Linked DNA regions of Homo sapiens. The protein of the gene in region 7 interacts with the protein of the main gene of each other region in a biochemical or structural test. Each region holds a gene or a part of one and is shown on either strand. Other genes may lie near its edges. The genes, in order: PDGFRB, PRR16, TANC1, MAP4, LPXN, TANC2 and MAGI1.

The links.
Region 1: the proteins of MAGI1 (region 7) and PDGFRB interact in a test that uses a peptide from one of them, tested with the Homo sapiens proteins (one large-scale study listed by IntAct).
Region 2: the proteins of MAGI1 (region 7) and PRR16 interact in a test that uses a peptide from one of them, tested with the Homo sapiens proteins (one large-scale study listed by IntAct).
Region 3: the proteins of MAGI1 (region 7) and TANC1 interact in a test that uses a peptide from one of them, tested with the Homo sapiens proteins (one large-scale study listed by IntAct).
Region 4: the proteins of MAGI1 (region 7) and MAP4 interact in a test that uses a peptide from one of them, tested with the Homo sapiens proteins (one large-scale study listed by IntAct).
Region 5: the proteins of MAGI1 (region 7) and LPXN interact in a test that uses a peptide from one of them, tested with the Homo sapiens proteins (one large-scale study listed by IntAct).
Region 6: the proteins of MAGI1 (region 7) and TANC2 interact in a test that uses a peptide from one of them, tested with the Homo sapiens proteins (one large-scale study listed by IntAct).

What each region holds. Positions count from the first base shown.
Region 1 is NC_000005.10:150,145,846-150,149,345, forward strand, and holds part of PDGFRB (platelet-derived growth factor receptor beta isoform 1 precursor), read right to left. Parts: intron 1-3,500. UniProt on the Homo sapiens protein: Tyrosine-protein kinase that acts as a cell-surface receptor for homodimeric PDGFB and PDGFD and for heterodimers formed by PDGFA and PDGFB, and plays an essential role in the regulation of embryonic development, cell proliferation, survival, differentiation, chemotaxis and migration.
Region 2 is NC_000005.10:120,467,300-120,470,799, reverse strand, and holds part of PRR16 (protein Largen), read right to left. Parts: intron 1-3,500. UniProt on the Homo sapiens protein: Regulator of cell size that promotes cell size increase independently of mTOR and Hippo signaling pathways. Acts by stimulating the translation of specific mRNAs, including those encoding proteins affecting mitochondrial functions.
Region 3 is NC_000002.12:158,975,140-158,978,639, reverse strand, and holds part of TANC1 (protein TANC1), read right to left. Parts: intron 1-3,500. UniProt on the Homo sapiens protein: May be a scaffold component in the postsynaptic density.
Region 4 is NC_000003.12:47,918,917-47,922,416, reverse strand, and holds part of MAP4 (microtubule-associated protein 4), read left to right. Parts: intron 1-538; coding exon 539-652; intron 653-3,500. UniProt on the Homo sapiens protein: Non-neuronal microtubule-associated protein. Promotes microtubule assembly.
Region 5 is NC_000011.10:58,548,357-58,551,856, forward strand, and holds part of LPXN (leupaxin), read right to left. Parts: intron 2,877-3,500; coding exon 2,709-2,876; intron 2,525-2,708; coding exon of another isoform or gene 2,441-2,524; exon of another isoform or gene 1,797-2,440; intron 1,791-1,796; coding exon 1,617-1,790; intron 1,512-1,616; coding exon 1,430-1,511; intron 1-1,429. UniProt on the Homo sapiens protein: Transcriptional coactivator for androgen receptor (AR) and serum response factor (SRF). Contributes to the regulation of cell adhesion, spreading and cell migration and acts as a negative regulator in integrin-mediated cell adhesion events.
Region 6 is NC_000017.11:62,969,235-62,972,734, forward strand, and holds part of TANC2 (protein TANC2), read left to right. Parts: intron 1-3,500. UniProt on the Homo sapiens protein: Scaffolding protein in the dendritic spines which acts as immobile postsynaptic posts able to recruit KIF1A-driven dense core vesicles to dendritic spines.
Region 7 is NC_000003.12:65,353,026-65,356,918, forward strand, and holds the end of MAGI1 (membrane-associated guanylate kinase, WW and PDZ domain-containing protein 1), read right to left. Parts: coding exon 3,353-3,893; 3' UTR 501-3,352; downstream 1-500. UniProt on the Homo sapiens protein: Plays a role in coupling actin fibers to cell junctions in endothelial cells, via its interaction with AMOTL2 and CDH5. May regulate acid-induced ASIC3 currents by modulating its expression at the cell surface.

The DNA.
Region 1 (3,500 bases), on a different chromosome or scaffold from region 7:
CAGCCTGGGCAACAAGAGTGAAACTCCGTCTCAAAAAAATAAATTAAAAAATAAAGTCGTCAGCCTTATCTTTTCGCCTTCTTTGTCCCAACTTCTCCTTTCACTCTTTCACGCTGTCTTTTGAGCTGGGTAAAGCTGAAGCTGACAGTTTGAGTGGGAAACAGTCACTCCATTTTTCACAGAGCCCTACAGTCTTAGTACATTCCCTCTATTCACATCTCCCCCACCTTCTCTGCAATTGCACACCTCCCATGACAGGGCTCTCACCACCTCACCTGTGGCCCATTTCATTCTTAGCCAGCTTAGAATCTTCAGAGGGCAGACTATTGAGAATTGTTAATTACACTGAGTACAGTTTATCTCACTGTATTCTCTGCTTATTGGTCTTGCTTCTATCCACCAACCACCCTCTCCCCAAATACAGGACATCTTTCTAGTTATTGTTCTGATCCCCCCCAATCTGGAAACAAACAAAAGTCCCTACTAATTTAGAGCCAGGCACTCTGCTAAATGAGATGATCTGGAGATTTTGTTTCATCCTCACGACCACCCTGTGAGGGGGGTACACTCATTATTCCCATTTTACAGAGGAGAATGATGAGTCTCAGAGACTTTTGGTAACTTTCCCAAGGTCACACAATAAGTAAGATGCAAAGGAACGGGAATGCAAACTCAGGCCGGCCTGACTCCAAAGCCTATATTCTTTCTTTTTTTTAGAGACAGGGTCTCGCTCTGTTGCCCACGCTGGAGTACAGTGGTGTGGTGGCATGATCATAGCTCACAGCTCACTATAGCCTCAAACTCCTGGGCTCAAGTGATCCTCCCGCCTCAGCCTCCTGAGTAGCTGGGACTACAGGTGCGCATCACCACAACTGCCAAAACCTGAATTCTTGCCCGTCATGCCAGACTGTCTGTCTCCTGACCAGAAACAGTTCTGTCCATCTGTCCACAGAGAAACGTTCTCCCTCTAATGGCGTCCATACGGAATCCAGGATCTCAGGGATGAGAAGATCCTCAGGGATCTGGGTCCCGCCTCTGCTCTGACTGAGGGGCAGTGTATGCGGGAGGCCTGCCCCGGGTCACCAATAATTTTAAAGTCGAGCTAGGGATAGAACCCAGGACTAGGGATAGAACTCCACAATTTCGCTGCAGAGGCTGAGGGTGAGCACACAAGGCTGAGGAGAGAGTTTTTGCTTAGGAAAGCCAGGGTCTGGCAGGGGCAGTGCTCCTGCGGGATACAGCATCCAGGCAATCAGCCCAGGTGTGTGGCCGGCTCTGCCACAGGCCTGCTGTGCACAGGGTCCAGGCCTGCCCCTGTGGGGGCCCCAGCACCCCCTTCCACTGTTTGCAGAGGGCCAGGGCCTCTGTAGCTGCAGAGTTCCAGGCCTCCACCATCCTGCTGCTGCCCTCCCCATCCCCACCCCCCAGAGCCTCATCTCCGGCCGGTGCCATGGCAACAGGGAGTGCCAGGCCCTTGGCAGCCAAAGGAGCCCCTGAGAGGGGTCCCAGGCTGAGACTGAGGAGGGGGGTGCGGCAGGCGCAGACAAGCAAACCTTCTGTTCCCCGGGCTGCTGCCAGCCCGGAGCAGCCATGGGCTGGGGTGGGGGCCGCAAATAGAATGGGTTCTCAGAGCCAAGTGGGCAGGGGACAGGCAGGCCTTGGGCCATTCACACTGACCCACCAGCACACAGCCTTCCCCCACAGGCCCAGGGCCTGCAAATAGGGGAGGGGTAGCTAGCTAATGAGTAAACCCTTCACTTATCAGTGCCAATTACCAAACATTGAGATTCCCCTCAGAGCCCTCCTGGGCGGCAGAGCAGGAGGGCAGAGAACCCCCATGTTTCACTGACCCTCTCACTGTCTCAGCATCTGTCCTCCCACCCCTGTCTTCGGTCATTCACTTAACCACCCCTCTGTGCCTCAGTTTTCTCATCTGTAGATTGGGGCTCATCACTGGGTTGTCAGGGCTATTGAAGGAGTTAACACAAGCAAAATGCTTAGAATAGGGCCTGGCACACAGCCCTCTGCAAAGTTGGTGGCCACATTATTATTATTCATTCACTCAAGGGAGAAGAAGTCACTCACTCACTCGGCCTTGCGCGCACAGCCAAGACTCCACGGGACTAGGCTTCTCAGCAAAGTGATGCATGTGATAAATGAGACGGTGCAAGAAGGCCTCTCCCAAAAGACGCTCCTCAGGAAGAGGTAGCTGCTGATTATTGGTACAATCAGTAGCAACAGCCCTTTTCAGTGTCCTGAGGCTCAGTGAGGAGTGTCTCATCCTAGCACACTCGGCGATTCGGTGGCCAACCTAAGGCCAGACCCATCTAATCACCACTGTCTGTCAATTACTTCTTTCCTGAACTTTTGTCTTAGTCCTTTAATATGACTTCCCACAAATCAGGATACCTACCTAACAACGATCTGGACTCTCTTCAACTTCCTAATATGGAATTAGGCCTACAGTAGGTGCTCAGTAAACGCTTACACGATATGAGAGATTAAATGGCTCTGTAGGGTCAGCTCTTCAGTCCTGGGCCCTCGGCTGCCTCCTAATAACACAGGATTCACTAGGCTAGGGAACTGGCATGGATAGGCAATGGTGACTCTTTCCTTCCAGGGAGGTGATGGAGATGAGCTGGTGAGGGCAGAACAGACATATGGCACTCTGAAGCCAACAGGCTGCGCCTGATGCCATCCAGGGCAGGGATGGGAGCCCCGCCAGGCTGGGAGCAGTGGTTCCAGCTGGAAGCCACTTATTCCTGGGTCCAAGCCCCAGTTCTCTGAGTTTAACTTATCTGAGTCCCAATTTCCTGGGAAATGGCATGGGAGACCTCCTTTTCCATTTCTGGGAGGGCCAGAGATGATGACGCACAGCACTTGGCACATCATAGGTGCCCAGTAAATGGTGACTAACAACAGTATATGATTACTCCAGTGGGGAGAGCGGGTATGGCTTCCTGAGGGAGGTGGCCTTGAGCTAGGCCTCCAGGGTTTCTTGAGTTTTTTGGCAGATGATGCCAGGGAAAGGTATGGCCAGGGCTCTGTGAGAGATGAAAGGCATCTGGGAGAAATGGCAGGGAGAGATCTGTTGGGCTAGAAACTGGGGCTCTTCAGCAAACAGGTAGGTGATGGCCTGGGAAGGAGGCAGCAGGAGGCCAGGGAAGGAGGCAGGGAGACTTCAGGAAAGGTCTGCGGTGCTGTGTGAGGATTTTCTCTGGACCACCAACTTTTCAAGGTGTTGATAGTGATGGCGGGTAGTAGCTGCTGGCTTGGCAGGGCAATGCTGTAACTCCAGGCACTGTGGGGAGGGGGCCTCCATGCAGGAGGATGACACCAGCAGGCTGGCATTTAGTGGGAGGCTGTGGATTAGGATGGGGACAGTGGAGGCTGCAAGGCCAGTGTTGGGGATGAAGCCGTCCCAAACTCAGCCTGAACTCCCTGGCAGGACAAGCTACATAATTTGTGGGGCAAGCACAAAATGGAAATGCAGGGCTCTT
Region 2 (3,500 bases), on a different chromosome or scaffold from region 7:
TACTATCTCGGACCTCAGATTTCTTATGTGTAAAATGGGCAATATCAGTAACTTCCTCATCTACCTGTTTTGAGAATTAGATAATTTAATATAAATAAATGCGCTGAGAAGAGTACCTGGCAGAGAGTAAGACCTCTGTTAGATATTCATATTGCCAAAACTGCTCTTTCTAGTGACGTTTAATAACCATGAAAAGCTGGAAATAAATAGAATACCCAATATTAAGGGAAGTATGAAGTAACTTATAGCAAATCTGTGTAATAGTTACGATCTATATCATTCAAGAAAGTAGAAAATGTCATTGCTTATAATTTATAACTTTGTATAACTTCATCTATGTTAAAATATGCATACAAAAAGACTAAAAGAAAATATGACAAAATGTTTAGTATACTTATTTTTATGTGGTACTAAAGATAATTTTTGTTTTCTCCTTTATATTTCTTTAGATTTTTGCAAACTTTCTATAATATTCATGTGCTGCTCCTAACATCAGAAAAAATAAATTTGATTTTTTTAATAGTGCCCTTTGTTGTTTGTTAACTTTGTATTTGCAGCTTGATGTCAGTCATGTATATTTCAATCAGAGTTGAATCAGCGACCTACTGGAATTTTATTACTCTAAATCTCTAAAATTGCCCCTGAAATTTTTCAAGAACTATCTCTACAGAAGAAAAGTTCTATAGTTTGGGAAAATATGTTTTGCTCAAACTTGCATTTCTATCTTTTTTCCTACATTTAGATTTAAGTACCTGAGATCCTCAGAGAAGCAAGGATGAAAATAACATAATCCAGGTAATAATGAAACCTATTACACTGGCTTTATTATCTATTACTTCACTGTTGCCTGAAACACACTATCTATTACTTTAAGGCTGCTTGAATTTCTTATCAGCTAATTCTCTAAGTGTTGAATGTTTTAATTCATTGGAAATAGACAGTGATGGATGATTATTGGCTACCTCTATGTTCTCAAAATTATTTTTGGTAACTGCTAGGCCATCATGCCTAAGTAAAGAAAAATTTCAGAGCATTTTAGCATTTGGTAAATATACCACAGTTTGGGGAGGTAGACTGTGGTATAAAGTAGTAAAAGTATGACTATTGCTACAATTAAAAGAACTACTAAATTCTATTTATACACAACTTTAGAACTTGGAAAATACTTCAAGCCAGACATGGTGGCTCATACCTATAATTCTACCACTTTGGGAGGCCTAAGCAGGAGGATGACTTGAAGACAGGTGTTCAAGATCAGCCTGGGGAATATGGCAAGACACCATCTCTATCAAAAAAAAAAAAATTAAAAATTAGCCAGGCATGGCGGCGCATGCCTCTAGTCCCAGCTACTCAGAAGGCTGAGGTGGTAAGACTCCTTCAACCTAAGAGATGGAGGCTGCAGTGAGCCAAGATCTCTAACACTGCCCTACAACCTAAGTGACAGGGCAAGATACTGTCTCAAACAAAAAGAAAATAGTTCCGAGATTATTCTCTATAATTTTTTCTTGTAACGAATTTTTTATGCATGGGCTCATTAACCAAAAAATACTCGGTAGGAATTTCCAGACAATAAACTATAGAACATCAAGTGGTTAAGACATTAAAAGAGGGAACATTTAGAAGTGAAAATATTTTTCAGATAATTGTTAATTCTGTTTTCATCAGTTCAAATCAGACTGTTTCCTATGGGGTTCAAATTGTTCAAAATTCAACTTAAATTTATTTCAGTTTATGCCATTGTAAGACAAATTATGGGTGCTTTCCAGTCCATGGCAACAATGCTGACATACTTCTCACCAATGGAGATCCAGTCACTGAGTGATTCTAAGGCAACAACAAAACAACTTTATTTTAGTTTCTCTGTTAGAGTCATGTCTATTCAGAAAGCCTCTCAAGAAATTATTTACATATGTTTTTCAACTCATATAGTAGCCTTGTTACTTGAAATCATAAAAATAAACACTACAAGAAAAGCTCAAGGTTATAACAAGTCTAAACTAAAAGAGAATCCAGCTAAAGCTGCAATTAGTTTTGTTTCCAGATAAAAGGCTGATTATTACAGATTCCAGTGTCACTCTGACCAATAAGATATGTGATCCCATATTAATACCAGCATTTAATGCAAAATAGTTTACCAGTGAGATCTTCATAAAAGAACAGGCATATTGCTACTCAAAGGCATTAGATTATTTGAGAACTATTTTAAAAAGCAATTGCTTTGTTTCTACATTTCTTAGTGAAAAAGTATCACTCACACCTACTCTACCAGTTATGGTTAATTTTATCACTAAAACTCTAGAGTTTCACCACTATTTTCTTCTTTTTTTTCAATGTGTAGAAAAATGCAACATGGATTACTCTTGTAGTCCAAACCTATTTCCTTTTACCTGTGACTACCTCTTAAAACCCTATTTACATTAAGAAAAAGAAGAATTCAAAATCTTCCTTTTTAACTCTCCATTTCTCCAAAAGACTTAGCTTTCATGGAAATCTTCAGTATTTAGTTACAACATTTGAATATGTAATCTCCTGTATATGGTATTGATCCATTTATGTTAACCATGACAATCTAAGTCAACTGTAAATTTCTTAAAATTCATATATTTTCATCTTTTTAAGCTTATTTCTTCATCAAAGACTTGCCATACTACTAAGTATGCAGCACACATCATTTTATAAATCAACATATACTCACTCTCATTCTCAATTCTCGATTTCCCCAAGCCTGCAGTGAGAGTGGCCACTAAAGGCCACAATGTCTTTTTATACTGCTGATGTTGGAAGACAGGATAAATATATCCCTAACTAACCTTTGGAGCTCACTGAGACCAGAAACTATGCCTTATTCATCTTGGTAGCAATTTAAAAGGTGTTATAGTACTTGGAACATGGTAGGTGCTCAATAAGTATACTGAATTATATTTAAGGCTTTTCCAATATATTAATAGCATAGAAAACAAAAGGACCCATATTATTTCTGAAAAGTCAAATTATTTGAGATTTTACTAAATTCTGAGAGTAGAATAAGGCTGCTCTTTGACTTTCTAGAAAGCCTGTTCCTCTGCTTCTAATATATAATCCAATTATAACTGATTAAGTAATTATAACTAAATAATCATAAAACAGATACCCAAAATAACAACTCTTCTTGCTGAGCAGACTAGAGTTTTGTCACTACTTATTAAAGTGTTTCAAGCAATTACTATTATGTTTGATTCTATCCTACTACCTGAGTTTTCAGATGACTTAAGCCCAGAAAACTTCTATGAAGAAAAGCAATTTCAGAGTAACCTCAAACCAAAGTTTAATATTGTTGGTGCAGAAATTACACAAAAACAAAGAACAGAATTAAAGAAGATTGCATTTTAACTAGATATTTTTTAAAAGCAGAAAGAAAAAATAAATACTATATGATGACTGCCATAGTGATATAGTCATAACTACTTTTTTATTTTTAATTTCTGTTGCAAGTTAAGAAGAGCTCGCCGATAATTTATATT
Region 3 (3,500 bases), on a different chromosome or scaffold from region 7:
CCCATGATTTTGCTTTGTGGTAGTTGCAGACAGCTCACTATCTGCAGGCATTTAGATCTTCATACATCTCATCCACCAGGCCTTTCGTGTTACTCCACAAGGACTCTCCCTTGAACTCACTGCATCTGCTAGGATTGTCTTTAATGTTTTTGCACTATCATCCTATGGAACCTCCCATTTCACCTGTGTCAGTGTTCCCATGTGAAAGAACATGGCACTGTAAATAACATGCATGAGGGCACACAAACCAGCCAGGAAATAAAAATTTTCCAGGTCTGAATCCTGGGTCCTGCTGTCTTGGTTCTGTGAGCTCCCTGCCCTCAATCTCCTTTCATGTACATGGAGCTCCCTGCCTTCCTAAGGCTGCCAGAAGGCTGGAGGCGAGACCCACCCCAGAGTAACAAGTCCAGAGTGATGTTTAACAACTGTGGATTCTCTGTCTCCCTTTCTCCCAAAGGAGAAACAGATTGTTTTCTTTTTAAATGAGAAAGGTAAGACAGGACCCCCTACCATCAAAAAGCCTACAACCCATCTGCAAAGCCAATAGGCGAACAACTTAATAATAAAAAGCAAACAGAGAAAGACATTATAATGAATGTACAATGTACTAGGGAGACTAAAAGGAAAGAAAAACTGAAATGTGGAAGCGGGAGTAAATCAGAAAAAATGTTCATAAGAAAGCAATATTTATTTAAGCTAGCCCTTGAAAGTCAAAATTTCAGTGGTGGTGGTAGGGTGAGGGAAGAGGCAAAATTGAAACAAAGTATCAGGGACGGGCAGGAGTTCAGTGGTATTAGCAGAGACAAGGAGAGGACAGCTGGGCCTGCAAACAAGTTAGGGTCCAGATCACAGAGATTCTTGAAAGCTAAGAATAAAACAGGGACAGCTACTACTCTTATCTGTCCTTATATCAGGTATGATGCTTTCAGCTGCAAGTAACAAAAATACCTAACTCTAAGTGACTTAAATTGTGGTATCAAAGCTTTTTTGATCACGCAGGACTATCAGTTAAAAAAAAAAAAAAAAATTAGCCAGGCACGGTGGCTCATGCCTGTAATCCCAGCACTTTGGGAGGCCGAGGCGGGCAGATCACTTGAGCTCAGGAGTTTGAGACCAGCCTGGCCAACATGGTGAAACCCCATGTCTATGAAAAATACAAAAATTAGCCAGGTGTGGTGGTGCACACCTGTAATCCCAGCTATTCAGGAGGCTGAGGCAGGACAATCACTCGAACCCAGGAGGCAGAGGCTATGGTGAGCTGAGACAGCACCACTGCACTCCAACCTGGGCAACAGAGAAAGTTTCCATCTCAAAAAAAAAATTTTTTTTTAATTAAGCCAGGTGTGATGGTGCACACCTGTAGTCCCAGATACTTGGGAGTCTGAGGGGACAGGATCACTTGAGCCCAGGAGTTGGAGGCTGCAGTGAACTATCATCACACCACTGTACTCCAGCTTGGGCAACAGAGCAAGACTCCCTCTAAAAAAATAAAAAGTAAAAAATTTTAAAAACGTATTGAAGCTCAGGAATTTCAGGGGAAAAAATTTATAACATATATACTAACATATTATAAATTGTATTAATTTATGTGTAATTAAAACTAGTTATGAATGGTATGTATACACACACATGAATGTAGTATATACATTATACAACATTTAAAACTTTTAAAGGATGGGAGTCAAACAGTATTTTTAAGTTCATTTTTATTAATAATACAAATCCAAACATAATTTTGTTGTTGTTGTTGTTGTTTTTCAAGACGGAGTCTCATTCTGCCGCCGAGGCTAGAGTTCAGTGGCACAATCTTGGCTCACGGCAACCTCCACCTCCCAGGTTCAAGTGATTCTCCTGCCTCAGCCTCTCGAGTAGCTGAGATTACAGGTGTACACTACCACACCTGGCTAATTTTTGTATTTTTAGTAGAGACGGGGTTTCACCATGTTGGCCAGGCTGGTCTTAAACTCCTGACCTCAGGTGATCTGCCCGCCTTGGCCTCCCAAAGTGCTGGGATTACAGGCATGAGTCACCGCGCTCAGCCCATACATAATTTTTGAGCCACCTTCTTGTCAAATTTGTTTTAAAAGTCATGTTCTAAACTCATAAGAACATTTTCTTGTTCCTTTATACTTATATCATTATCATTACACTTTCTTTGCAAGAATCTTTTTAAACCACTCGCCCATTTTCTGGGGGTCAGTTTAGTTAAAACCAGATAATCTAGCCATAAATGTATTTAGATGGATAGAGTTCACCAAAGGCAAGAATAAGAATGAGGGTACCACTGTCAATTCCACCAGGTTGTAAAAGGCCCAGTCTTCCCTCAGGCAACCTCATATAATGTAAGTTGATAAAAGACTACCAGATATACCAACCAGTGTCAACTCATACATTAAATATTTTAAAAGCTTAATTTTTTCTAACATTCTTGAATATTTTCTTCCCTCCCATATTGGATGATCTAGCACACTCCACTCTGGGGACCACTGATCTTAAACAATAATGAGGCTGGGCACAGTGGCTCACACCTGTAATCCCAGCACTTTGGGAGGCCAAGGTGGGAGGATCCCTTGAGCCCAGGAGTTCGGGACCAGCCTGGGCAACATGGGGAAACCCCATCTCTACAAAAAATACAAAAATTAGCCAGGTGTGGTGGTGCACACCTGTAGTCCCAGCTATTTGGGAGGCTGAGGTGGGAGGATCACTTGAGCCCAGGAGGCAGAGGCTACAGTGAGCCATGATCATGCCACTGCAGTCCAGCCTGGGTGATAGAGTGAGACCCTAGCTTAAAAAAAAAAAAAAAAAAGATAAGAAAGAAACAATAACGAAAATGTTTTTTCTCACAGAAGTTCTGAGTCACAGTGGTTCTAGGGCTGGCTAATCAGCAGCTAAAATAAGTCATTGTGGGCTGGGGATGGTGGTTCACTCTGTAATCCAGCACTTTGGGAAACTGAGGTGGAAGGATTGCTTGAGGCCAGGAGTTCGAGACGAGCCTGGGCAACATGGTGAGACCCTGTCTCTACCCGCCCGCCTCCTACACCCCTGACACCGACAAAAAAAAAAAAAGTAATTGTGGTCTTAGGCCACCTTTAGTCTGCACTCGGTGCTACTTGTTCTCTTGTGCTGACAACCTTATGCTTCAAATATGCCAGGACCTAACAGGCGTCACATACATATTCATTAATGAGTCACTGGCAAAAGGTATGGCATTACTAAAATTGATGGCTTAATCAAAATTCACTCCCTGGGGCAGGGGACGCATCCACCTTACCCTTAAGTACATGGCCAGTGGAAAACTAATCAAAAGCAGGATTATAGTAGTAAGCACAGTCACCCCCCTCCACACCCAACCCTCCATATCTCAGGTTCCATGGCCACAGATTCAACAAACCTAGGTTAGAAAATATTCAAAAAATATTCTAGTAACTGACCACTGGAAAAAAGATAACAATACAATAAACACAATAAAATACAATAAATACAATAAAAATATAAATTTT
Region 4 (3,500 bases), about 17 Mb from region 7:
GGCTATCTGATGTACATAACCAAATCTTAGAGAAGGGATTATTTATTATTAACTCATAACAAATGAATTAGTGAATATTGATTCTCTACCATGTGCAGTCACATATGATTTCGGTTTACTTACTATTGACAACTCATCTATATTCATCATAGGATAATAAGAAATATTGGCCAGGCATGGTGGCTCACGCCTGTAATCCTAATACTTTGGGAGGCCGAGGTGGGCAGATCACTTGAGATCAGGAGTTTGAGACTAGCCTGGCCAACGTGGAGAAACCTTGTCTCTACAAAAAAATACAAAAATTAGCCAGGCATGGTGGCGGGCATCTGTAATCCCAGCTACTTAAGAGGCTGAGGCAGGAGAATTGCTTGAACCTGGGAGGTAGAGGTTGCAGTGAACCAAGATGGCACCACTGCACTCCAGCCTTGGCAACAGAGCAAGACTCCACCTCAAAAAAAAAAAAGAAAGAAAGAAAGAAATATTAATCTTTCTAGTTGCATTCACCAGGAATGAGTTTTGGATTTCTTCTATATTCCAGATCCCTTTAAGATGTACCATGATGATGACCTGGCAGATTTGGTCTTTCCCTCCAGTGCGACAGCTGATACTTCAATATTTGCAGGACAAAATGATCCCTTGAAAGACAGTTACGGTATGGCTTCTTCAAATGGATTTATTCTGTAGGGAAGGAAAAAAATTTTTTCTTTACTCATCTTTGGTTCACTGACTAGGGCTCTGTGACAAAAGATTAACAAGAAAAAAGAGACCAAAGTTTAAAATGTGAATTTAATATGTACATGAGAGGTACCTAGGGAATGAGTAACTCCGCAAGAGGTGGCTTTAGAATTCCACCTTATATAGCTTCTTCAATAAAGAATGACAAATTTTTTTTTTGAGAGGTGAGAAGATGAAGGAAAAGACTTTTGAGTCTCTAGGGGCCGCAAATTGTGGGAGACAGGTAAATGGTAGGTAAAAGCTAGTTAGTAAAGGTTGCTGTGTAGATTCCTATGGTGCCATCTCCAGGCTAATAATAGCCTTCAGCTTAAAAAAGTCCTTATGCCAAAGTAGCGTATTTTGGGGTGGCATATTCTGGTGTCCTTTAGTTGTTTAATGCCAAACAATCAACATGGCCTTTCACACATCACCTTTGAAGCTAACCACTAAGAAAAGTCAGATTTAGGGGCTGTGGGTGTGACAAGGCTCTCTTTGGATTAATCAAAGGAGACAATTCACAGATTCACAGTTGGGCTGTCATCTCCCCTTTTTTTTGAGACAGGGTCTCACTCTGTCACCCAGGTTGGAGTGCAGTGATGCGATCACGGCCCACTGCAGCCTTGGCCTCCTGGTCAGGTGATCCTCCCACCTCAATCTCCTGAGCAGCTGGGATTACAGGTGTGTACCACTATGCCTGGCTAATTTTTTGTAGAGATGGGGTTTTGTCACGTTGCCCAGGCTGGTCTTGAACTCCTGGGCTCAAGTGATCCACCCGCTTCAGCCTCCCAAAGTGCTGAGATTACAGGCGTGAGCCTTTGCACCCAGCCACATTTTTCTACTTCTTCATTTACAGGCAGACACAGTGGCTCATGCCTGTAACCCTAGCACTTTGGGAAGCTGAGGTGACAGGATTGCTTGAGCCCAGCAATTTGAAACCAATCTGGGCAACATAGGGAGATCCTGTCCTACAAAAAATTTTAAAATTCATCCAGGCGTGGTGGCACATGCCTGTAGTCTCAGCTACTCAAGAGGCTGAGGTGGAAGGATTGCTTGAGCCCAGAAGGTCGAGGCTGCATTGAGCCATGATCATGCCACTGTACTCCAGCCTGGACAACAGAGTTGAGACCCTGTCTTAAAAAAAAAAAAAAAAAAAAAAAACCATCTGGGTGCAGTGGCACACGCCCGTAATCCCAGCACTTTGGGAGGCCAAGGCGGATGGATCACTTGAGGCCAGGAGTTCAAGACCAGCCTGGCCAAAATGGTGAAATCCCGTCTCTACTAAAAATACAAAAATTAGGCTGGGCCTAATGGCTCATGCCTGTAATCCCAGCACTTTGGGAGGCAGAGGCGGGCAGATCACCTGAGGTCAGGAGTTTGAGACCAGCCTGGCCAACATGGTGAAACCCCATCTCTACTAAAAATAGAAAAATTAGGCCGAGTGTGGTGGCTCATGCCTGTAATCCCAGCACTTTGGGAGACGGAGGTGGGCAGATCACCTGAGGTCAGGAGTTCGAGACCAGCCTGGCCAACATGGTGAAACACTGTCTCGACTAAAAATACAAAAATTAGCTGGGAGTGGTGGCAGACACCTATAATCCCAGCTACTCAGGAGGCTGAGTCAGAAGAATCACTTGAACCTGGGAGGTGGAGGTTGCAGTGAGCTGAGATTGTGCCATTGCACTCCAGCCTGGGCAACGAGCAAGAATCCATCTCAAAAATTAATAAATAAATATAATAAAAATAAGAAAATTAGCTGGGCAAACAACAACAACAACAACAACAACAAAACTGCTACAAAGTATTTTAATAAAATTGTCTTCTAATGTTGGAAAGGGAGGTGTTAATCTCATTTTGCAGATGAAGAAATTAAGACTCGCAGTTTTTTACTATAGTATATTATGTTGGTTGTGGTGTTGGAACTAGAGTTCAATCATTAATATTTTGAATCTTTATATTACCCTTTATATATTATATAGAAAGTAGCCAGTGAATGTTGATTAATGGCACTACTGGGATATACTATACCACCTACTAACAACTAGCTAAAACCTGAAGAATGTCAGCAGTGTTTCCTTTAAAACTTGTTTGCGTTGTCGGCCGGGCGCGGTGTCTCACACCTGTAATCCCAGCACGTTGGGAGGCCAAGGCGGGTGGATCATGAGGTCAGGAGTTCGAGACCAATCTGGCCAACATAGTGACACCCCATCTCTATTAAAAATACAAAAAAATTAGCCAGGTGTGGTGGTGTGTGCTTGTAGTCCCAGCTACTTGAGAGGCTGAGGCAGGAGAATGGCGTGAACCTGGGAGGCAGAGATTGCAGCGAGCCGAGATCGTGCCATTGCACTCCAGCCCAGGCGACAGTGCGAGACTCTGTCTCAAAAAAAGAAAAAAAACTTTTTTTGCATTGTTTTTTATTAGTCTGTGTCTTCCTGGCAATATATGCAGCTGATTTTAAATATCAAATACCTCTTAGGCCGGGCGCGGTGGTTCACGCCTGTAATCCCAGCACTTTGGGAGGCCGAGGCGGTTGGATCAAGAGGTCAGGAGATCGAGACTATCCGGGCTAACATGGTGAAACCCCGCCTCTACTAAAAATACAAAAAATTAGCCGGGAGCTGTGGCAGGCGCCTGTAGTCCCAGCTACTCGGGAGACTGAGGCAGGAGAATGGCGTGAACCCGGGAAGCGGAGCTTGCAGTGAGCCGAGATCACGCCACTTCACTCTGTCTGCGTGGGCAACAGAGCGAAACTCTGTCTCAAAAAAAAAACAAACAAAACAAAACAAAAC
Region 5 (3,500 bases), on a different chromosome or scaffold from region 7:
TTAATGAACCAGAATGACTGCTACTCAGCAGGAAGAAATCATTTCATGTTGAATCAGGAGGAGGAAAGTCTCCTGGAGGGATATCTCCAGAAAAAAAAAAAAGAAAAGAAAGAAACTGACTTGTTGCCAGATGTAGTTGGCCATTTTGAAAAGAATTTCACAGTTCTGTTGCATAACTTAGTGATAAGTACAATAAAAACTAAGCCAATTTCAAAAAGGATTCAAATGTTAACTTTAGAAAAAAATGAATTTATACCAAAAGGACACTGTGATAATAATATTAACACTACTATACCTCCATGTGCTTGGCACTATTCTAAATACCACGCTTGTATTGTCTCTAAATCCTCATAACAACCCTATAAGGTAGGCAATTTCATTAGGACTATTTTACTGATGAGGAAAGTAAGGTACAGAGATGTTAAATGACTTGAACAAATACCACAACCCAGATTTGAACCTGGAAGTCTGACTCTAAAATCCAGACTCTAGTGTAGTCAGTTTGCTACATGGCTTACTTGTGAGCAGTATTCTATGATTGTCAACATATGCACACTTAATACTGATCTAACCTGTAATTATGACATAATTATATATTGAAAAAACAGGGGAGGGGAAATATGTTAGGAGTGAGTGGGGTAATAATAACATTTCTAAACCTCATCTTCCCTCTTAGACAGTCAATACATAATGGTTAAAACTGGAAAAATAAAACAATCTATAACAATATAAAGTTATTATTTAAAACACATAAGCAGGCCAGGCGCAGTAGTTCATGCCTGTAATGCCAGCACTTTGGGAGGCCAAGGCGGGCGGATCACGAGGTCAGGAGTTCAAGACCAGCCTGGCCAATATGGTGAAACATTGTCCCTACTAAAAATACAAAAATTAACCGGGTGTGGTGGCAAGTGCCTGTAGTCCCAGCTACTTGGGAGGCTGAGGCAGGAGAATCGCTTGAACCCAGGAGGTGGAGGTTGCAGTGGGCGGAGATCGCACCAGAGATCGCACCACTGCACTCCAGCCTGGGCAACACAGTGAGACTCCGTCTCAAAAAAACAAACAACAACAACAACAAAAAATAAGTAAATATCAGAAGAAACAGCTAAAATAATTTGGAGAGGAGAACTGGATTTGGAGATGAGAAAGGGACTTTTTCAATATTCAACAAGAAAAGGCTTTTTCAATATTACCCTTGAAGTAATATTTGAGTTTTTAAACTATGCATTTGTATTTCTGTGATTTAAAAAATCAATTTAAAGGGAAATTATAAATGTTGGAGAAAGGTAGGGAGGGATGGTATCTAGTACTGAAATGGGCACTTTGATAGTACTGATAGGAACCAGGACTCCCGTGACTACCAGGAAAGGTGTTGCTGGTCTTATAACTACCCACTGGGGTGTGGGATACAGCCTCTCAAGTCGGGTCATACCTTCTGCACCAAACACCTCTCCGCAGTGAGAGCAGAAGAAGTGCTCTGGGTGCCAGGTCTGGTTCATTGCTGTCAGCACTTTCTGGAAAGGGAACACACAGATATTATAATGATGCAGAAGTTGTAAAGCATGACTCTGGTTCTAAGTGAGTGACTGAAAGCTGGAGAGGAGCGGGGATTTACTTACATCCAGGATGGGAGCAGCGCAGTAAGCACAGCGTGGAGAAAAAAGTTGGTGGTAGTCGTTGGGGCAGTAGGCCAAGCCACTCCGCTCAAAGAAGGGACTGGAGCCAATCTCTTCTTTGCAATGAGTACAGACAAAATGCTCAGGATGCCATGATTGCCCTAGAGCATGGATCACCTGTGGAGTGAAATAAAGCCTGACACAGGAGGCCAGTTGAGTGCTCTACAGCCTACAGGTTGCACAACTCTAGGGAGCACTCTTCACATTGTACCCCTTGTAGACAACACGCCCTGGAATTATACAACACTGAGGCCTAGACCTAGGTTCCACCTAAGGCCATCTGTGGTCTGTGCTTTATGGATTGATAATAAAAGGATGCCCACTTCCGGGACTGATCACTGTGATGAAAGCCTGTAAATGTTCACAACCACTGCACTGCCACAGGGGGTGGCAGAAACAACATATAGCACATTGATGACAGAGAAGTTGTAACTGTAGCCTTAGTGTGGAAGGGACCCCTGGAAGAGGAAAAGGCCAAATGACAGTTTTTATTCCTCTAGTTTGAACACTTTATTCCACGCCCCATGCAGTCAGGTCTCAAAGCTTTTTATCATAGCTTCGGTGAAGGACGATGCAGAACAGGAGTTTGCAGCTGTGACTTGGAGCTGAGTTCAGCTGAAAATTGTAATCAATCAATTTAGACTGGGAATGTGTGAACAAAGGGAGCAGTGAGAAAGGTCATCTCAGTAAAGGCAGTACAGAAAAATGGTCAAGAACTCAAACTCAGGAGACAGTCTCCTGGTTTCAGATCTTACCTCTACCTCTTATTATGCCTTGGATATGTCCATTAATGTCTCTGAGTCCTCAGTTTCCTCATCTTTACAAAGGGAGCAATCATTCTTCTTGAAGGGCTGATGTGACCATTAAATGAGGAAATACTTGTAAAGCACTTAGCTCAGTGGCCAGAGCACTGTAAGTGATTAGTAATTATTAATGCTAACTAAAATATCTTAAAATATAAGGGGAAAGAGCAAACCTTGATGAGACAGAGAGAGACAAAGAAGGCTGTAGGACCAAAATTTCAGCCCATCTCACCTTCCCAGCAATCGGTTTCTGGCAGGATGCACAATGGCCCTTGGGCACTGTGGCAATGCCAAGGTCCTGCAATTCCTGCTCCAGACCCCCAAGCATTGAGTCCAGGGAGGCCTTGTGATCCTGCTTGTCTGGTAAGTGCTTCTTGCCAGCATCTGCTCTCACTGCAACCTGGCCCAAGGGAAGAACCAAGAACAGAATCAGCCTCATTTTTATTCTCATTGGCATCTTCTAATGACTCTATAAATTCACCTCTACTGACTGATCTCTTGGCCTTTCCCCAACCTTCCTGCAAGACATTGGAAAAATCTAAAATTTCAACACCAATAAAAATCTTTTCATCTCCCTTTCATCCTAAACTCCTCAGGCCAAATGAAATCTGACTAATTTTATATTTGTAAATCTTTTCTTAATGTAGGAAATTTAGTACATGAAGATGATACCCTTTGAAGATCTTAGGATGACCCCAGTTCAAAAATTAGTCACATCTCCCTTTTACTCATTTATTTGGCAATAATTGTTGAATACCTGGTTTGTGCCAATCACTGCTCTAAGCACTTGGATTAAAGCAAAGATAAGACAGACCAAGTGTCTGGCCTCATGGAATTGCATTCTGTGGGCGATAGACAATAAATAATTAAATAAATAAATATATGTTGTAATGTCAGACAGAGATAAGTTATAGAAAGAGATAGAAGGGACACAGCAAGATGGTAAGAAGAATTGATTTAGATGGAGGTAATAATCAAAGAAGGCCCCTCTAAGGAAGTAATATTTGAGTAGATACTTGGGACT
Region 6 (3,500 bases), on a different chromosome or scaffold from region 7:
TATGTGTTGTTATTTCTGTTTTACAGATGAGAATCTGAAACACAGAGAGGTTAAATAACTTGCCCAATACTATATAGCTGAGAAGTAGAAGAGCTAAGTTTCCATTTAGGAATGCTAGCTCCAGAACCTGTGCTCCTCATCAATATGCTATATTGCCCTCTCACTCAAGGTAGTATTGGCAAGGCATAATTAAAATGCATGTGCCCATCATAAAGCAAGTACAATAGATGTGGATAAACCTGGACAACTCACATAGATGTTAAGTCTGCATATATACAAAAGATACAGTTATTTGCAGTGTGAACATTTCTCTTTAGGAATTTGTTTTTTAACTTATTTCTGGGATTATGCGTAGAGGAGTATTAGTACTTTTTATGTGGTTAAGGAAATATTTGTGATGGTGGTTGGTTTGAAGGGAACTTCAGAGGTAAAAAGTTAATTTCAAGTAGTTTAATATAGTGTGTGTGTGTGTGTGTGTATATAAATACACATTCATACACACACACACAGCCTTTTTAAGAGCACCAGTAAACCTTTACTGCTTATTTTCTGTAGGGAAATTAAGGATAAATTACAATATTTTTCTTCCTACTCATATTTTTATGACCTCTTTTTCATTTATATTAAAAACTACCATAATTAGCACAAATGGATTAGATGCCTATGTACATTTTACCTCTAATGTCAACAAATGTTTGTTCAGATTTTTCTCACACTTAAACATTGTTTTATAAGATATTGACCACATATGACAAAGTATTTATAAAAATGTGTAAAATATAAAGACTTCACAATGCAGCCAACACTTACATGCCTTTTACCCAGTTTAAGAAATGGAACATCATCTTTCACAATTATAATAGTTATTTTCTTCTCTTAGCCAAATTGCTTCTGCCATTCTTTTTCAACAGAAACCTTTCCTTATTGTGCTGCGAATTGCATATCTCATGTAACCAAACACTTCCCTTTTTATATACATTTGTTGATATGGGAATTCAATATAATCTACTGCTTATGGCTAAAACTTATTCAGCATATATGCTTACGTAATTTAATATATTTAATAAATTGTCATACACTCAGACTATGCTTTGTATTTGTATTGGTTACTGGTTGGTAGTTCATTTTAGCATACTTCACTTGTAAAACTTAATTTGGTTTGCAAATTAGGATTTTACTAACATTGTTAAACATTAATAGATTATTTCCCTCTTCCATCATGAATTCTTGACTGTCCCACGCTAGCTCTGTTTTTTCTTCTTTTCCCCATAACTGCCTTTGCTCTTTATTTCTTAAGTGAGTATGAATTATTTTGAATGGAGAGGGAAGGAGACCCTAGAAAGGAGTATACTAATCCAGTCATTTCAAAGGGGACTATTAGGGTAGTTGGTACTGATTGAATATATGGTAGAACAAGTGTGCATAAAAGAAATGCATGAAAATCCTCTCCTTGTCATATTTCTTCCTTTTACAGTAGAATTAAAATGAGATCTGAGACACTCTGATTGGGCACACTAGCTGAATATTGTTGGATTGAACTTACCCAGAATCACCAATGTTAGCTGGGATATTTTTGCTGACAGTACAATATGCAGATTTTAATTCAGGGAGCTAGAACAAGCTGTTGCAGAGGGCTGTTTACTCTTCTAGTACTAGTCTAATCAAGGCACCAAATATTATAAAATAGTTTGGAAGCTAGTTCAATTATTTGGACTTTTTTTTTCTTTCTGAATGACTTGAGACTCAGCATTGTTATATTTGCTTAATGTGCCTGTAGTCATCAAATGCTGTGATTATTTTGAGGGAAAGGCACTCTGTAAATATACTATACAAATAAATAGTTTAGACTTCGTTGTAATACCGTGAGAATACCGCTTGGTTTCTTTGAATAGCGTCTTTTGTAGTAACTTGCATTAGATGAAGACCGTTTAAAATGAAAAAAAAAATGAGTTAAGGAGATGTGTGTATGGTGATGCAGAGTGTATATCCCTGATGAGTTTCTTGAAAAGGCCACGGAGAGAAATAGGTTAAAGAAGAGCTTAAAGACTAGAGCTGTGTTTTCCCACTCAGCAGTCTCCTGCTGCCCTTCGCTTTCCCTTTCTTTTCTCTTTTCAAGACAGGATCTCACTATGTCTCCCAGGGTAGGGTGCAGTGGTGTGATCTTAGCTTATTGCAGCCTACGTCTCCTGGGCTCAGGCGATCCTCTCACCTCAGCCTGCTGAGTAGCTGAGACTATAGGCACGTGCCACCATATCCAGCTAATTTTTGTACTTTTTGTAGAGACAGTGTTTCACTCTGTTGTCCAGGCTCATCTCAAACTCCTGGACTCAAGTGATCCACCTGCCTTGGCCTCCCAAAGTGCTGGGATTACAGGTGTGAGCCAACTGTGCCCAGCCAGTTTTCTTTCTTTTAGAGCAGGGGTCTCTAACCCCTGGACCATCATGGCCTGTTTGGAACCAGGGTGCACAGCAGGAGGTGAGTGGCTGGCCAGCCAGCATTACTGTGTGAGCACCTCCTCCTGTCAGATCAGCAGCTTCATTAGATTCTCATAGGAGCTTGAACCCTATTGTGAACTGCTCATGAGAGGGATCCGGGTTGTCCGTCCTTATGAGAATCTAATGCCTGATGATCTGAGGTGGAACAGTTTCATCCCCAAACCATCTCTGCCCCCCTACCCTCTGGAAAAATTGTCTGGAAAAACGTCCCTGTTGCCAAAAAGGTTGGGGACCGCTGTTTCAGAGGACATTTTACTTTGCGTATTTAAGATTCAAGGTAATATTAGATGGAGAACAGGAACTTTGGGTCTGAGTTTTAGAAGGCTAAAGCAGGTTACGCAATTAGTGAAAAAACTTTCTGGGACCTTTTTTTTTCTAGAAGGGTCAAAGTAACTATAATACCATAATTTTTTCTGGAAACAAATTTATTAGGTCAGTTTATTTTAAAAAATCTTTATAAATTATGTGAAAGCTGTGTTTGTGGATATGTCATATAAGTTGTTTTTTTGTTGTGGGCCACACATGACGTATCTTGTTATGTTCGGTCTCTTGTTTGCTCTTGAATAGTTAAAGGTAAGCATTACTAAATTTAAGAGTCAAAATAATTGTGTTAGTGTTCTATTATGCCTTTTCTTCCCCGTAATATCAATTTCTGTCTTTATTCACTACATGGTTTATAGTGCATCTTAAACTCCTTTCTTTGTTTATCAGAACTTAAGAGAGTCTCATGTCACTCATTTAAACTGAGTAGTTGCATTATAGAAATGATCTTGTTGGTGTGTTTTTTTAAAAATCCAATTGCTGAGGAAACACCTTTAGTGTTTTTGTCAACTTTGCCTACATTTCTTCCATTGCGTTGCTTCCAGAGTGATCTTTCTAGATAGTCATTTGATCATGTCACTTTTTTCTTCAGAATCTTTCACTGGCTCCTCATCACTGAATGGATAAAGTGGAAACTCCTTAGCAAACCGTTTAAGGTCCTTAATGATCTGGTCCCTGCCTCCT
Region 7 (3,893 bases):
ACTGAGGACTCTTCTGATTGCCAAAGATGTGTATCTATTCTTAGCTCTGTGAAGTATGTCCTTTTACAGATGAGGAAATGGAGGCTTCAGAGGAGGTTAAGGAATGTGCCCAAGAATCACACCAGAAGTGATGAAGCTCTTAGCTTGGCAGGATTTGTTTTATTATCAGGGTTCTGTGCTATACTGTGCTGTGCTGTTTAAACTTTCATGTGCATAAGGCATAGCTGAGGATCTTATTAACTGTACATTCTGACTCAGTAGGTCTGGAGTAGGGCTGAGAATCTGCATTTCTAACAAGCTCCTCAGTGATGATGAGGCAGCTGGTCCACAGACCACACTTTGAGTAGCAAGGCACTATGCTATTGCAATGGCATAGATCCTGCTCTTTCAACACAACGGCATTTCATCAAGTTGGAGTCAGGGGCCCTCAATTGATTACTTGACCCTGATACATTTGAGACAACATAGAGACAAGGAAGATATCAATCCAGAAGCAATAGTGGTTGTGGAATGCATACATTTCCATGTATTTTTACAGTAAAAATGCATTAAAAAATCTTTCACAAAAGAAACTTAAAAAATACAATTAGGGTGTTGAGTCCTCCCCCCCAACATTCTTTCAGGCATCAACTGTGTAACGGAGGGAGACAAATTCCTAAATCGTTTGATTTCATCATACAAAATACTCATCCATTATCTCTCATCAAGACATTTACATTAAGTGGGGGAGGGGGGCGGCGGGATTAAGGAAAGTAGGCTCACAAGAATCAGTTTCCAATTTAAGGTTACAGCAGTTCAAAGAAAACTATATCTTTCTGCATAATGCATAGTCCCTGTACAGTACAATATTTCCAAACAAATCTGATGTGTGGAATTCAGGTGAAACTGCCACACCAAAAAGTCCACGGATTGAGACAAGCCCAGGTGGGTAGCACATAGATTTTAAATTGCCAAATATCATCTTACAACAAGAAGGACATCAAGATGTTAACTTCAGGATATATTCCCAAAATCCACCTTGATTTCATTTATTTAAAACTCTGGATCACAATTGAGAGCATCAGTCATTTAACATCACAGATTTTGTTAGAACTAGTGAGAAGAATCCTAGCAGTGGAGCCCTGGGAATAAAATCTCCAAGTCAGCTCTTAGGAACTTGATGAAAAAGAACATCATTATTCAGTTGTACTCTTCCTCAGCCTTACTACAGCTCAATGTATGCTTTGTATGGAAAACTTTAATAATAAAAATAGCATTCACAGACTTTTCCCTCCTTTTTAGCTACAGAATGTATATTGTGTCTGTTCCAGGAAAGGAACTTGTTTTATAAATGTCCACACAACTACAGCTACTCATTCTAATGTTATGTATAAACCCATAAGTCAAATAAAGCTATGAACAATGTAATATTTATATATGCATAGTGTTTTATAAAAAGATTGGCCCACATACTGCTTTTCATCAATACAGAAAGAGCATTAAGTCCATAGCACACTGCAAGAAATAAATGAGTGAAGAACAGAGAATGCAAACAAGTGCTTAATAATTCACAAGCAGGCTCACCATGGAGGAAATGATGATATTCAAACCAACTAAAGCTTTAGAGAATTACTTATATAGTCTCCCATTTTAAAACAACTTTACATACCTGATTTAGTTTACATTAAAATATATCCCCATGAATCAATTTGTTCCATATTCAGAAATATAAACACGTATCACATTCCTCACAGCTAAATTTTGTCATAAATTCTCTTTTATACAAGAAAAAAAGGCAACAGTTGTTTTCTTTTTTTTCCCAACAGGCTCTATTAATTACAATTTTTAGCTCTGTACACGCAATGATTGGCTGGTTTTCTTTTTTTTTTTCTTTTTCCTTTTTTTTTTTCTTACAGTACCATGGGAACAACAGTGATTGACTTGCAAAGTTTTCTGTCTCTATGGAAAATGCAAAACAGTACTACAGAAATACACAATGCACTGTAAGCAGCGGTTTGCTGTAGTGGTCCAACAGGTACAAGCAAACATTTTGGCTCAGCTAGGCAGTAATCCACTTAAACCACATCCCGGGGCTACGGCCGACCCAACCACAGCTCCTGTGGGATCAAAAAGAATGGGTCTGTTTAAAAATAAAAATTGTTATGTTTTGTGCTGCTGTCCAAAGGACTCAAAGGACAGAGTCATGAGGCAGAAGTTTCCCAACCAGACCTAGAATCACTGGGACCACTTCCTTCCTTTCCCTTCTACCAACCTAGAGACTTGGACTATGGTTTCAAAGTGAAATTGGCATTTCTAACAATGAATACCCACAGCCCTCACTTCTTTAAATATCAACAGAGAGGTTCCTTCCACCAAGGCTCATTGCCTCCTCCCCAGTTTGGCAAAGGGCAACCATGGGCTTCTACTAAAAGGGAGGGGGGCATGCTTTCCAAATTGGGGATCTTACGTCTTCCTCACACCAGGCACACTGTCCCCCCATTCCATCTACTATTCAGCCTCCAATCAGACGAGACAACACGAAAGATGCTTGTTGTCTCTTCCTCGTAGTAATTGAGCAAAGCTGTGATGGCATTGCCTTCAATGAGATTTTATCAGATGTTGGTGATGATCACGAACCTGACTGTCTGTGCTTGGGCTGTATTTGAGTAAAAGTGGCCGACATTTTTGTCTGTGTGCCTTCCTGGGCCAGGGAGAGTACAAACTGTTTTCTGAACCAACTATAACTCACAATATAAAACTTCTTTGTGCTGCGCAGTTTAGCTATAAATATCCTTCATTTGCAATAGTAGTCTTGTCATACAGTTTGCTTACTTTTAGGATCATCGGCAAACCTAATCCATCCCCAAGGGTCCTCAGCTTTTACAAATAAAACTTTGCATTTTTGCTCTTTGCTTTTAAGAAAAACTTCCGACTACAGTATAGCACTACATCACTACATGACAGTCTATATCAAATTAATTAAACTTAATCAATAAATTCCCTTACGTAGAGAAAATGATCAACAGCCCCATTTAACCAGGAGAGAAAAAGATTGCCCCAAAACGGGAACAATTCTTGACGATTCTACAGGTTACGTAGAAACAAAATTTATATCCCTTTGGGCCAGCATTTGGCAAATAATTTCCAAAAAAGTATGCATTTAAAAATACTTTCTTTAATATGATACATCAGGCACAATACTTTTCATATATATTTTTTCTTATAAGATTTCAAATGCATAAAATGTTTGTTGTTATTCATAGGATCATCAGGTGTCAGATGCTTCATTAGGTAAGAAACTAAATAATTTCAGGTTTGTGACTTTCCTCTTAGAACCTTTGACACGGTAAAGGTTGGAATGTGACTCAGCGTCTCAGATACTGAGGTCGGTGCTACATTCTTTGTAAGGTCGCCTTCTCTGCTCCGGGGGATGTCTGGAACTTCTGCCGGCATCCTGTTTCAGATTCGCCTCTTCCCTTTCTCGGTGGCTGGCTCTGTCCTCTCTGTTCCTTTTGTCCAGGGACCGCTCTCTCCTGCGCTCGGGGGAGCGTGCGCGCCTCCGGTCGGTGGACTTGGCCCTGCGCTCGGGCGAGCCCCCTCTCCTGCGCTCGGGGGACCTCCTCTGCTCCAGGAGTCTCTCCAGAGACCGTCTCCGCCGGCTGGGGGAGCCGTCTCTCCTGCGGGTGGGTGACCGCTCTCGCCTCCGCTCCGGAGAGACGTCTCGTCTCTTCTCGTGCTTCTCCCTCCTCTCCAAAGTGTTGTCGGCGCTGCGGGTGCCCTCCCTCCGCTTCTCTGGGGACCGCCTCTTGGGGCCGTTGGCGGCTGCCGCGCGCTCGGCCTGCGCGTCCCTCCGTCCCTCCGGCGCCCGGTCCTTGGGTCGGCATGCCCCGCTGTCGGGTTTCCTCGAAGTCCCA